3 linked regions of the Homo sapiens genome follow. The protein of the gene in region 2 purifies or fractionates together with the protein of the main gene of each other region. This does not show direct contact. Each region holds a gene or a part of one and is shown on either strand. Other genes may lie near its edges.

Region 1 (3,651 bases), on a different chromosome or scaffold from region 2:
CTCAGAATGTTTATTCGCATACAGATTCTTAAAAAACATGATTTATTGTAGGCAGATGTCACCTCTTTAAGCAAAAGAAAAAAACAACCAAAAAAAGAAAAGCCCCAGCCGGGTTCCGCGGCTCAAACACCTGCAATCCCAGCACTGTGGGAGGCCGAGGTGGGCGGATCACCTGAGGTCAGGAGTTTGAGACCATCCTGACCAACATGGTGAAAACCAGTCTCTACTAAAAATACAAAAATTAGCTGGCCTGTGATGGCTTGTGCCTTTAGTCCCAGCTACTGAGGAGGCTGAGGTGGGAAATCGCTTGACCCTGGGAGGTGGAGATTGCAGTGAGCCCACATCGCACCATTGCACTCCAGTCTGGGCCACAGAGGGAGAGCCTGTCTCAAGAAAAGAAAAGCCCCGTAGTTTATCATAATGTCTGTACTGGGATATGGCTGATGCTATGCATTTCTGTAAAGTAGCTTTAAAATATTTTCTCCTCTCACTTTTATCTTTTTCCTTTTTTTTTTTTTGAGACAGGGTCTCACTTGGTCACCCAGGCTGTAGTGCAGTGGTGCGATCTTGGCTCACTGCAGCCTCTACCTTCCAGTCTCAGGTGATCCCCCCACCTCAGCCTCTTAAGTAGCTGTTTTTTTTGTTTGTTTGTATGTTTTTAAATTTTATTTATTTATTTATTTATTTATTTATTTATTTATTTTTTGGAGAGATGGAGTCTTGCTCTGTCACCCAGGCTGGAGTGCTGGAGTACAGTGGCGCGATCCACCACTCCCAGCTAATTTCTTTTGTGTTTTAGTAGAGATGGGGTTTCACCATGTTGCCCAGGCTGGTCTTGGAATTCCTGGACTCAAGCAATCTGTCAGACTTGGCCTCCCAAAGTGCTGGGATTATAGGCGTGAGCCACCACCCCCGGCCACCTTTGTCTTAGTGAATGCTATTAAGTTGTTAGGTTAGTGATGTAGTCATACAACTTTTTTTTTTTTTTGAGATGGATTTTCCCTCTTGTCATTCAGGCTGGAGTGCAGTGGCGTGATCTTGGCTCACTGCAGCCTCCGCCTCCTGGGCTCAAGTGATTCTCCTGCCTCAGCCTCCCGAGTAGCTGAGACTACAGACTTGGGCCATCATGCTTGGCTAATTTTTGTATTTTTAGTAGAGACAGAGTTTCACCATATTAGCCAGGCTGGTCTTCAACTCCTGACCTCAGGTAGTCCGCCTGCCTCAGCCTCCCAAAATGCTGGGATTATAGGTGTGAGCCACCGCACCCGGCCAGATATAGACATACAACTTCTAGGAGGGACAAAGGTTGGCATATGATTCACCAGTGTTGTTCCGGGTGGTTGGCTAGATAGCTGTCTAATGGAATCCATTAAGGAGTAGGAAAGAGCAGCAAGAAAAATGGCTATTTTCACTATTTTTGAAATGGTCAGTTAACAGTTTGAGATAGATACATATACTTTTTTGAGACAAGGTCTTGCTTTGTTGGCCAGGCTTGGATTGCATTGATGCAGTAACGATTCACTGCATCCTCAACCTCCCAGGCCCAAATGATCATCCCATCTCAGCCTCCCACTTAGCTGGGCCCACAGCTGTGCACCACAATACCTGGATAATTTAAAAGAACTTTTTTTTCTTTTTCTTTTTCTTTTTTCCCGAGACAAGATCTCAGTATATTACTCAGGCTGGGATGCAGTGTCACATTTATGGCTCACTGCAGCTTTGACCCCCTGGGCACCTCAGCATGCCAAGTAGCTGGGGCTACAGAAGTATACCACCACTTCTGGCTAATTTTTGTAGAGACAGGATTTTACCATGTTGCCCAGGTCTTGAACTCGAGCTCAAGATTCACCTGCCTCGGCCTCCCAAAGTTTTGCGATTACAGGCGTGAGCCACCATGGCTGGCAAAAAAATTTTTTTGGTAGAGGCCTGGTCCCAGCGGATTGCCCAGGCTGATGTTGAACTCCTGAGCTCATGTGATCTTCCCACCAGGTAGCTGGTACCGCCATGACCAGCTAATTAAAACTTTTTTTTTGTGGAGACGGGATCCCACTGTGTTGTCCAGGTAACTCCTGGGTTCAAGCGATCCTCCCACTGTGGCCTCCCCAAAGTGCAGGGATTATAGGCATGAACCACTGCGCCCGGCCAGCTTGATATATTTAGGTATTGATATATCCAAATTGACGAATTGGTTGCCAACAGAACCTCATGGTTCTCTGACTAAATGTTAATGCTAGTCATGGCCCTAAGAACAATTTCAGATGTTCATTTAAATTTATTAAATTGTAGCAAATAATAATGAAAGTCACCATAATTTAACATCCACATGAGTATATCTTGAAAAGACAGACTAATTCATCAGCTACAACAGCAGGCATAAACTGGGATTGTCCTGGGCAACAAACTTGCCTTGTGGTCACCCTACTTAATGGCCATTTGTTACTAGATTTTGTCATTTAGACTCATACAACAGTTTCCTAAACGTTGTCCAGCTTTTTATCACAGAGATAGCTTAGATCTACGTCTCTAGGAGGTTGAATTTTTTTTTTTCAAATGAAGTTAGCCTTTGGCAGAATATAAGTCAAAGGAAAAGTGAAAATTTCCTCCTCCTAGCTCCCTCCCCCACAAATGGGAACGTGCTAGTTAAGGATGTGGTAGTTGCTGAAAATAGAGCTTGCTGGCATTCCAAATCCTCTGATGGTGTCAACACCTAGTGTGTTGGTTTTCTTATGGCTACCTTGAGCCAGTTCTGTGTTTAAAAATATAATAGACCTAGGTGTTGGTAGCAGTGTCCTAAGCTCAGAGCTTTCCCTACATACATTTTATTTTTTTATTTTTACAAGTGTCTTTCATACCAAATACCCACATAAAAATTTAAAGGCTCACCCATATCTTGTTACAACTGTTATGTTTAGAATGCCAAACTGTGTAGTTCAGACCATATGACCATGATCCTGGCTTATCTCTTCTGAAATTTTTATCTTGAATTTATTGCCCTTCCAACAATCTACCATAGTAGCTGGACGGATCTGTTGTTGGTGGGCTTGATTTGTGATCAGATCAGGATTTTATCGAGCTAAAGCAATATGAAATGTGTTTAACTCTTCATTCATATCTAAAGTTTGAAGGAGATGCATTACTGTAAGAGTTATGACAGTATTTCATCATTTGGCAGATGTGGTAAATCTGCCATCACAGAATGCACAGGAATCACTGGGTTCCTTATCTTTCAAATGGGGATTAGTGATGTCTCTCTTGCCTACTAATTTGCAGGGTGGTTATGAAATTTTGGGCTTTTGTAAACTGTAAAGTGTAATACTTGTCGGTACTATTTGTTGTGAAACATTCTTATCTAATGTGAAAGGTCAGATAATTGTTTTTGTTACTGCTGTGCTAGGATCATATTAGATGATAACCTACCTTTTTGAGTTATTCTTAGCAAGTGTAGTCTTCTGGGCTTAGTCCTTATGTAAGATATGCACAAAGAAATATTCTCAAAATCCTTAATCTTACATCTGTAAATTTGCATATCCAAAGTAAAGGTCGTCCAGATTATTCCCAAATAATAATTTTGTCATGTTGAGCTGGTATATAGTTGTTTTGATATTAATTTTAGATTAATAAGAGACTTTCTCCTTAGCAAACGTAACACCT
Region 2 (3,651 bases):
GTGGTTGAGAAAAGACCAGCAATTTGTGGTCCCTACATCTTTTCCCAGGAGAGCTCACCTTCCAGCATTGCGGTCCTGGAAAGCAGGGACAATGCCTCTTTATCTTTTCCCAAGATCTGTTGTAGAAGCTGGAATGCTGAAGGCACCCAGCACATACCCTGGTCTGGAAGGGCTGGTGGGGGTGCAGTAGCCTACCCAGCATCAGCTCTTCATTCCAACTCTAATAGAGACAGGAGGAGACCAGGTCAGTGTCCACACTGCTCTTGGCTGGGTCCAGGTGACCTCAGAGCCTGATCTTATAGATGTCTTCTTTCCTCTGGCCGAGAAGGACCTGAGAAGTGCTTGGTAAGCCCCTGGCTGAAAACTGATTTGGTAATGGGTTCTAAGACCCAGAAATGTTGCATCTCCAGAGCTTCTGCTTGTGTGTGCACCTGAAGCTTCCCACTGCCCCCAGGTTAACTTGTTATTCCAAGACCAGGTGTGAGCACAGATTTAACAGCAAATTGAGACATTTATTGAGTCTCTACCATGTATTAGGCCATAGGGCTACAGAGGTGAACGCTGAACCCCTGCCTTGGAAGGATTCATGGTGGATTTGGAAAGACAGTTTGTATATGTGTATGTGCGTCCCCATCCATCTGTCCATGGTCCTGTAAGTACTTTAAAAGGATAAGCTAGGTGCAAGAGACACCAGAGGATGCAGCCATTCATTCCGATGGGCATCAGGAGACACTGTGGAGCGTAGTTCTAACCATGGGGAGAAGTTAGTTCTAACTTCAAGGCATAATTTGAATTAAGCCTCAAACTTAGGAACAAGATGGCATTTAGGGCAGGCAAAACAGCAGGGGCAAAGGCATGAAGAGACTTTGTGGATCATAGGCGTGGTGATTCTTCTCCAAGTCCAACCTGGTCTTTTTTGTTTTTTGAGACAAGGTCTCACTCTGTCATCAGGCTGGAGTGCAGTGGCCCGATCATGGCTCAAGCAGTCCTCCTTGTACCTCGCACCTGGGACTACAGGCATGTGCCACCACACCCAGCTAATTTTTTATTTTTTGTGGAGACAAAGTCTTACTATGTTGCCCAAGCTGGTCTCGAACTCCTGGGCTCAAACAGTCCTCCTGCCTTGGCCTCCCAAAGTGTGGAGATATAGGCGTGAGCCACCGCACCCAGCCAAATCCAGCCTCTTGGTGTTCACTAATGCAGAACCCACCTGCTCTGGTTCGGGTCTGCTTTATCTCTGTACATGGGCCAGGCCTCACCTAGCCCAGGGCTAAGTGCCTATTCTCCTTGTTTTCACCTGGATGGGAGCAATGCCACTGTGTTGTCTTTGAGGCAGGAGTAACTTCTGCAGGGATGCCTCTGGTTTTAGTTATCAGCACTAATCTGTACTTATTGGTTGCCACACACTGTTGTGAGTGCTCTCCAAATAGTAACTTAATTCATTTAATCTTCACAGCAACCCTGTCGCCAGGCTGCCTCCCAGGTACAAGTAGGTGGGGGCTGAACTCCTCTGCCCAGTGTATGTCCCTCTGTGGGTGATGCTCTGATTGTGGCCCGGCCTCCCCCTGGCTGCCTTTACATAGATGTGCCGGGAAACAGCCCAGTCTGAATTGCAGTGGAGCACTGACCCCATTTCCTTTAGGGGACCGGCAGGACTGTGCTGACTGCGTTTTCTGAACCAAAGAACGGGATCTGTAGTGTGAAAAAAGAATGTGTGTGCCACTGCTTTGTGCAAGAGGAGGCCTGAGAAGTGTTTGGATACTGAGAGAGTGGAATTTTTGAAACATTTTGATGGTTTATATGGAAAGTTAGGACAGAGGATTTGAAATTGGAATAGTCCTGGAAAATTGAGGTCCCATGATTTACTGTTAGGATACACAAGCTTTTAGTAAATGTTTAAGCAGTGTAGAGTGAAGTGAATTTTTTTTACTGAGCCCCCATAGGGAACAAACAGTGCATTTTAGCCTCAAAATCTGACTGATTCCTTCCAGCCCCATTTTACAGAGGGGGTGAGAAAACTGAGGCTCAGAGAGATGAAGTAACCACCAAAGAGCACAGTGTTTGTAAGCAGTGCAGCCGAGATTTGTCTTTTTGGTTTTTGTTTGTTTGTTTGTTTTTTAAATATAGAGAAAGGGTCTCGCCATGTTGCCAGGCTGGTCTTGAATTCCTCGGCTCAACTGATCTTCCTGCCTCAGCCTCTCAAAGTGCTGGAATCACAGGCGTGAACCACTGTGCCTGGCTGCAGCCAACATTTGAACCCAAGTCTGTGCCTAGACAAATCATCTGTTGTCAAAGTCAAATAAAATATAAAAACAGATGTTTCTCTAAATTTAAAACATTTTGCTTGGGAAGTAAGAATAATAATTTGGGAAATCTATACAGACTAGGTGGTCTTTGGTTTGGAAAACAAAGAGAATGTTGGGAGTTTTATTAGAATGAGAAATATTATGTATTGTTTTGAAAAAAGTCCATCGGCACTAGAGAAGCTCTTCGGGAGCTGGCAAGCTCTGATTGTTGCATGATGGTAGCAGATAAAACTAGTCTTAGGGTCACAGCAATTTGTTTCAGTAGTTATTAAATAAAACTGGTTTTAGGTTATAACAGGCAGTTTTAGCAGCCACGCTTGCAGAGAATTACATTTTTGGAGCAATGTTATGTGCCCTGAGTATTTTTCCCCTGGCCTCTCAACTCTGATTTAGTTGGGCATTACAATAATGACCCAAATTGTATAATCAACTTCCACCCTGTAAAATGAGGATCATAATTGCACCTATTCCCTTTAAGTTGACTGTTGTCAATGAGCTAATGTGGAAAACTAAGGCAAAACTTGGCATAGAAAAGGGGTCCCTCACTTTGTGGTCAGACCCCTGACCCTCCAGACAAGTGCTTTGATCTGTGTTCAGTGCTGAGAGTCGCTGTGGGTGAGTGAAGGTCCCTCCTCAGCCAGGACCACAGGTCCCGGTTCTCAGGACTGAAGGGATATTCCAAGAGGGAGCATCCAGGACTGTGCAGGGGCCATGGCTGCCTGAATGCTGTGCTGATGAGGGTCCCCTGGCGTAGGAGTGGGGTTGGAGACCTGGCCCATGCATGTCACCTCCCTCAGCCACATCAGCTCAAGGGCTAGCCCAGAGGTTCTCGGTGAGGGAGGCAGCAACCAGCTCCATCAGCTGTTTTTTGACCGCCAGCCACCATTGGGCCTGGGGAGGGGAGGTTGGCCTCTGAGCTCAGTCTTCCCCACTGGCTCCCCCGAGTCCCCTCCCCTGCTCTGGTTATCAAATGCATTCATGGTTCTTGTAGAAAATAAAGTGTCAGGGAACACAAGAAAAATTATGCATGATGCTTCTCTGAAAGCAGCTGGTCCACTGTCAGCACTGCCATGATCTGCACATGCCCTCTCCTGCTTCCAGTGGATTCTCTACTCCACAGACGGGGGAGTCTTCCATACACTCCTATTTTTCTCAAAATGAAGACAAAGCTGATCTCTCAGCATCTCCTGCAGGCCCTATGTTCATGCTCTTTGAGCCCTCACCTCACCGTGCTCCTTCCTGCTGCAGGGACTGCAAGAGCCTGGGACCTTCTCCCCCTCCCCACTGATTACTTCATCCTGTGGGTCTCAGCTCCATGATTGCAGAGCCTTTGCTCACCTTCCTG
Region 3 (3,651 bases), on a different chromosome or scaffold from region 2:
AGCACTTTGGAGGCCAAGGCGGGCGGATCACGAGGTCAGGAGATCGGGACCATCCTAGCTAACACGGTGAAACCCCGTCTCTACTAAAAATATAAAAAAATTAGCCAGGTGTGGTGGTGGGTGCCTGTAGTCCCAGCTACTCGGGAGGCTGAGGCAGGAGAATGGTGTGAACCCGGAAGGCGGAGCTTGCAGTGAGCCAAGATCGTGCCACTGCACTCCAGCCTGGGCGAGCACTCCAGCCTGGGCAACAGAGCGAGACTCTGTCTCAAAAACAAAAAACCTATGTGTGGTGGCTCATGCCTATAATCCCCGCACATTGGGAGGCCAATGCGGAGAATTGTTGGAACCCAGGAATTCAAGACCAGCCAGGGCAATAAATCGAGACCTTGTCTCTACAAAAAAATAAATAAAAGGAAAATAAAAGCAAAACCTATGCTAAAAAACAAACAAAAAAAACCCTCACTGTTTTCTTTCCTTCCCTGTTACCCCCAGAGCAGATGCCCTCATGTGTTCTGCGTAGATCCCCAGCTGAGAAGAGTTTGTGGACCTTTACAGTATGTGATTTGTATTAAGAAAACCATGGGGTTTCCCCCTTCATTTTGTAAATATGAAAGTTATCCCTGTAATGGTAAATACACTTTTTCATACTGTCCCGTGTCTCTTACTCCTCATCCCTGAGGAGTATTGATTGGCCCCCCTCTTCTCGGCCCCCAGTCACTGCTATAAAGTATTTGAATACTTACCTTGGGCTCAGCCAGGTTCTTATCTTTATGCTAGTTGGGAGTAAATATGTGCTTTGTTTCTTTAATTTGTTTGTAAGTACCAGCCTTTTGATATTGTAATCCTTCCAGCCTAGTGAAATACCTGGCTGTTTTCTTTTGTGTGGGTGGGGGCATTACTTGAACTCTGAATCTCTTCATCCTGTGATGGAAGAATTCAATGAGTCTTTGCCAGTAAAGTATCTAGTGCAGGGCTTGGCATAATCTAGTTTTCCATAAATATTATTAGTTTTTGATGATTAACTTATGGGAATAATTAAAATTTGCATGATACAGAGCATAGTTGTGTGCATTATCTTGTTTAGTCTTCATAAGTAAACATGGGTGGCAGGCATTCCTGCCATCATTCTTACCTAAGGAAACTGGGACCTGAAGAGGTTTGGAACCAGCTCCCACAGTGCCCAAGGAGGCAGAGCCAGGATTTGAACCTGGTTTATGTGTCTTTGAGTGCCAAACTCTTTCCTGCTTCTTTGCTTCGCTCTTGGGCAATAATTCTAAACAATGAGAGAGCTGCCAGGGTACCCATCCCAGGTTCTGGGGAAAAGATCCTCTTTCTTGGAAAGTCTTCATCCAGGAGCAGCGTGAAATGAGCTGTGTCCAAGCCACCATTTCAAAATAAATAATTATTTGGCCGGGCGTGGTGGCTCATGCCTGTAATCCTAGCACTTTGGGAAGCCGAGGCGGGCGGATCACCTGAGCTCAGGAGTTCGAGACCAGCCTGGGCAACATGGTGAAACCCAGTCTCTACTAAAATACTAAAAATTAGCCAGGCATGGCGGCATGTGCCTGTAGTCCCAGCTACTCAGGAGGCTGAGGTAGGAGAATTGCTTGAACTCAGGAGGCGGAGGTTGCAGTGAGCTGAGATCATGCTACTGTACTCCAGCCTGGGCGACAGAGCGAGACTCTTGTCTCCATCAAAAATAAATAAATAAATAAAAATAATTATTTGTGCCCTTGCTTGTGTCTTGAAAGGCTGCAAGATAGCTAAAATAATTGGTAGTTATTATGGGAATATTAAAAGTCAAAGGACATTAGGCCAGTAGTAATGGGATTTGGGAGAAGCGATCATGTCAAAAAATTTGGCTAAGCCATATTGTTGCAGTTTCATACAAGGTTTAGTTCTGAGCTTCCTGGCTGCAAGGCAAAAAGGGGAGAGCTCTTATCTGTTTGTGGTGTGACTCTGCCAGCTATATCAGATATTAAAACCAATGCTGTTTTTTGGCTGGGCATGTGGCTTATGCCTGTAATCCCAGGACTTTGGGAGGCCGAGGCGGGCAGATCGGCTGAGGTCAAGAGTTCGAGACCAGCCTGGACAATGTGGCGAAACTCCATCTCTACTAAAAAAAAAAAACACACACAAAAATTAGCCAGGTGTGGTGGTGCACACCTGTAGTCCTAGCTACTCAGGAGGCTGAGTCAGGAGAATCGCTTGAACCCTGGAGGTGGAGGTTGCAGTGAGCTGAGATCGTGCTACTGTACTCCAGCCTGGGTGACAGAGCAAGACTCCATCTAAAAAAAAAAAGGAAAATTAGCTGGGCGTGGTGACCTTAGCCCGTGATCCCAGCTACTCGGGAGGCTGAGGCTGAGGCTGAGGCAAGGAGAATTGCTTGAACCCGGCGGCTGGAGGTCGCAGTGAGCTAAAACTGCGCCACTGCACTCCCACCTGGGCGACAGATCGAGACTCCATCTCAAAAAAACAAAACAAAAAAGAGATGTTTCAATTACATTTTAAAAATAAAAGATGTTATGGGGGAGGGGGAGGGTTGGTCCTTGGCCATTTATCAAATCAGTTCTTTTTCTAAAAGCCCAGGAAAGAATGTGAATTAGTTGGGTTTTTGTTTTGTTTTTAGTTTTTCTCTACAGAGGTAAATTTAGAGCTTGAAGAATTCAGAACAAGGTCAGCAAACATTCTAGAAAGGGCCAGATAGTAAACATTTTAGGTTTTGCCAGTGAAAGCAACTATAGACAATATGTAAACAAATTAGCATGACTTTATTACAAAAAAATTGTATTTTAAGGCAACAGTTTCCTCATCTGTACAATGGGGGTAAGAGTGGCTCTACATAGTTATTGTGAGACCAACATGAGAAAACATACCCTCCTGTCCAATGCTGTCAGGCACCCTGCATCACTCCATAATCATTAACTCCCTTCAATATGCCTCAGGGCCTACCTGCTCTGTTCCAATAACAATTTTCAAGAATAGGGCTGGAACTCATTCACACTGAAAGGTAGACCAGAGTACTGAAGTTTCTGTGATCCTCCTCAGGAATCTGCACTTTAGCTTACCTGCAGACCAAGGATTGGATTAGAGGTTTTTTTTTGTTTTTTCCCCCCAAGTTTGGTGGTAGGGAGGAAGACTTCATTCCCAGTGTCTGAAAGCAGACTGCACAAGTAACTTTGTCTAGTGTCTGGACTCTTGGTAAGCCCTTCTCAAATGCCTTTAACCTTGAGGAGCTCGCACTCTGATAGAAGTGCTGCTGGTGGCAGTGCCTGATAACAGAGAGCTGAGCAAGCCAGTTGACCTCAGACAGTGATGTTTATTGCTGTTGATTGAGCCCTGGTGCCTGGTTGACTCCCCATTTGGATCAGAGTGAAGGAAGCAACACTTCTCTAGACCTGCTTCTTTCATCTGAAGGTTGAAAGTCATCCCCAAGATGTCTCATGGCCCAGATGTCAGGGTTCCTCAAGGTCAGCCTGACTCAGACAAAGTGAGAACTTCAGGGAAACCAGGGAAGTTCTCTTCCTCTCCAAATCTTCCCTCACCTGCTTGTTGTTGGCTGCCTTATCCCTGGCCAGTGCCTTCTACTCTGGTGGTGGTGGTCTTGTTGTTTTTGAGACAAGGTCTTGCTCTGTCACCTAGGCTGGAGCA

Evidence for each region.
Region 1: the proteins of PTPN3 (region 2) and YWHAE purify together in Homo sapiens (affinity purification with mass spectrometry; 5 studies listed by BioGRID and IntAct, with this or other methods). This does not show direct contact.
Region 3: the proteins of PTPN3 (region 2) and ACOT8 purify together in Homo sapiens (affinity purification with mass spectrometry; 2 studies listed by BioGRID and IntAct, with this or other methods). This does not show direct contact.

What each region holds. Positions count from the first base shown.
Region 1 is NC_000017.11:1,390,188-1,393,838, reverse strand, and holds part of YWHAE (14-3-3 protein epsilon), read left to right. Parts: intron 1-3,651. UniProt on the Homo sapiens protein: Adapter protein implicated in the regulation of a large spectrum of both general and specialized signaling pathways. Binds to a large number of partners, usually by recognition of a phosphoserine or phosphothreonine motif.
Region 2 is NC_000009.12:109,491,711-109,495,361, reverse strand, and holds part of PTPN3 (tyrosine-protein phosphatase non-receptor type 3), read left to right. Parts: intron 1-3,651.
Region 3 is NC_000020.11:45,850,826-45,854,476, reverse strand, and holds part of ACOT8 (acyl-coenzyme A thioesterase 8), read left to right. Parts: intron 1-523; exon of another isoform or gene 524-554; intron 555-3,651. UniProt on the Homo sapiens protein: Catalyzes the hydrolysis of acyl-CoAs into free fatty acids and coenzyme A (CoASH), regulating their respective intracellular levels. Displays no strong substrate specificity with respect to the carboxylic acid moiety of Acyl-CoAs.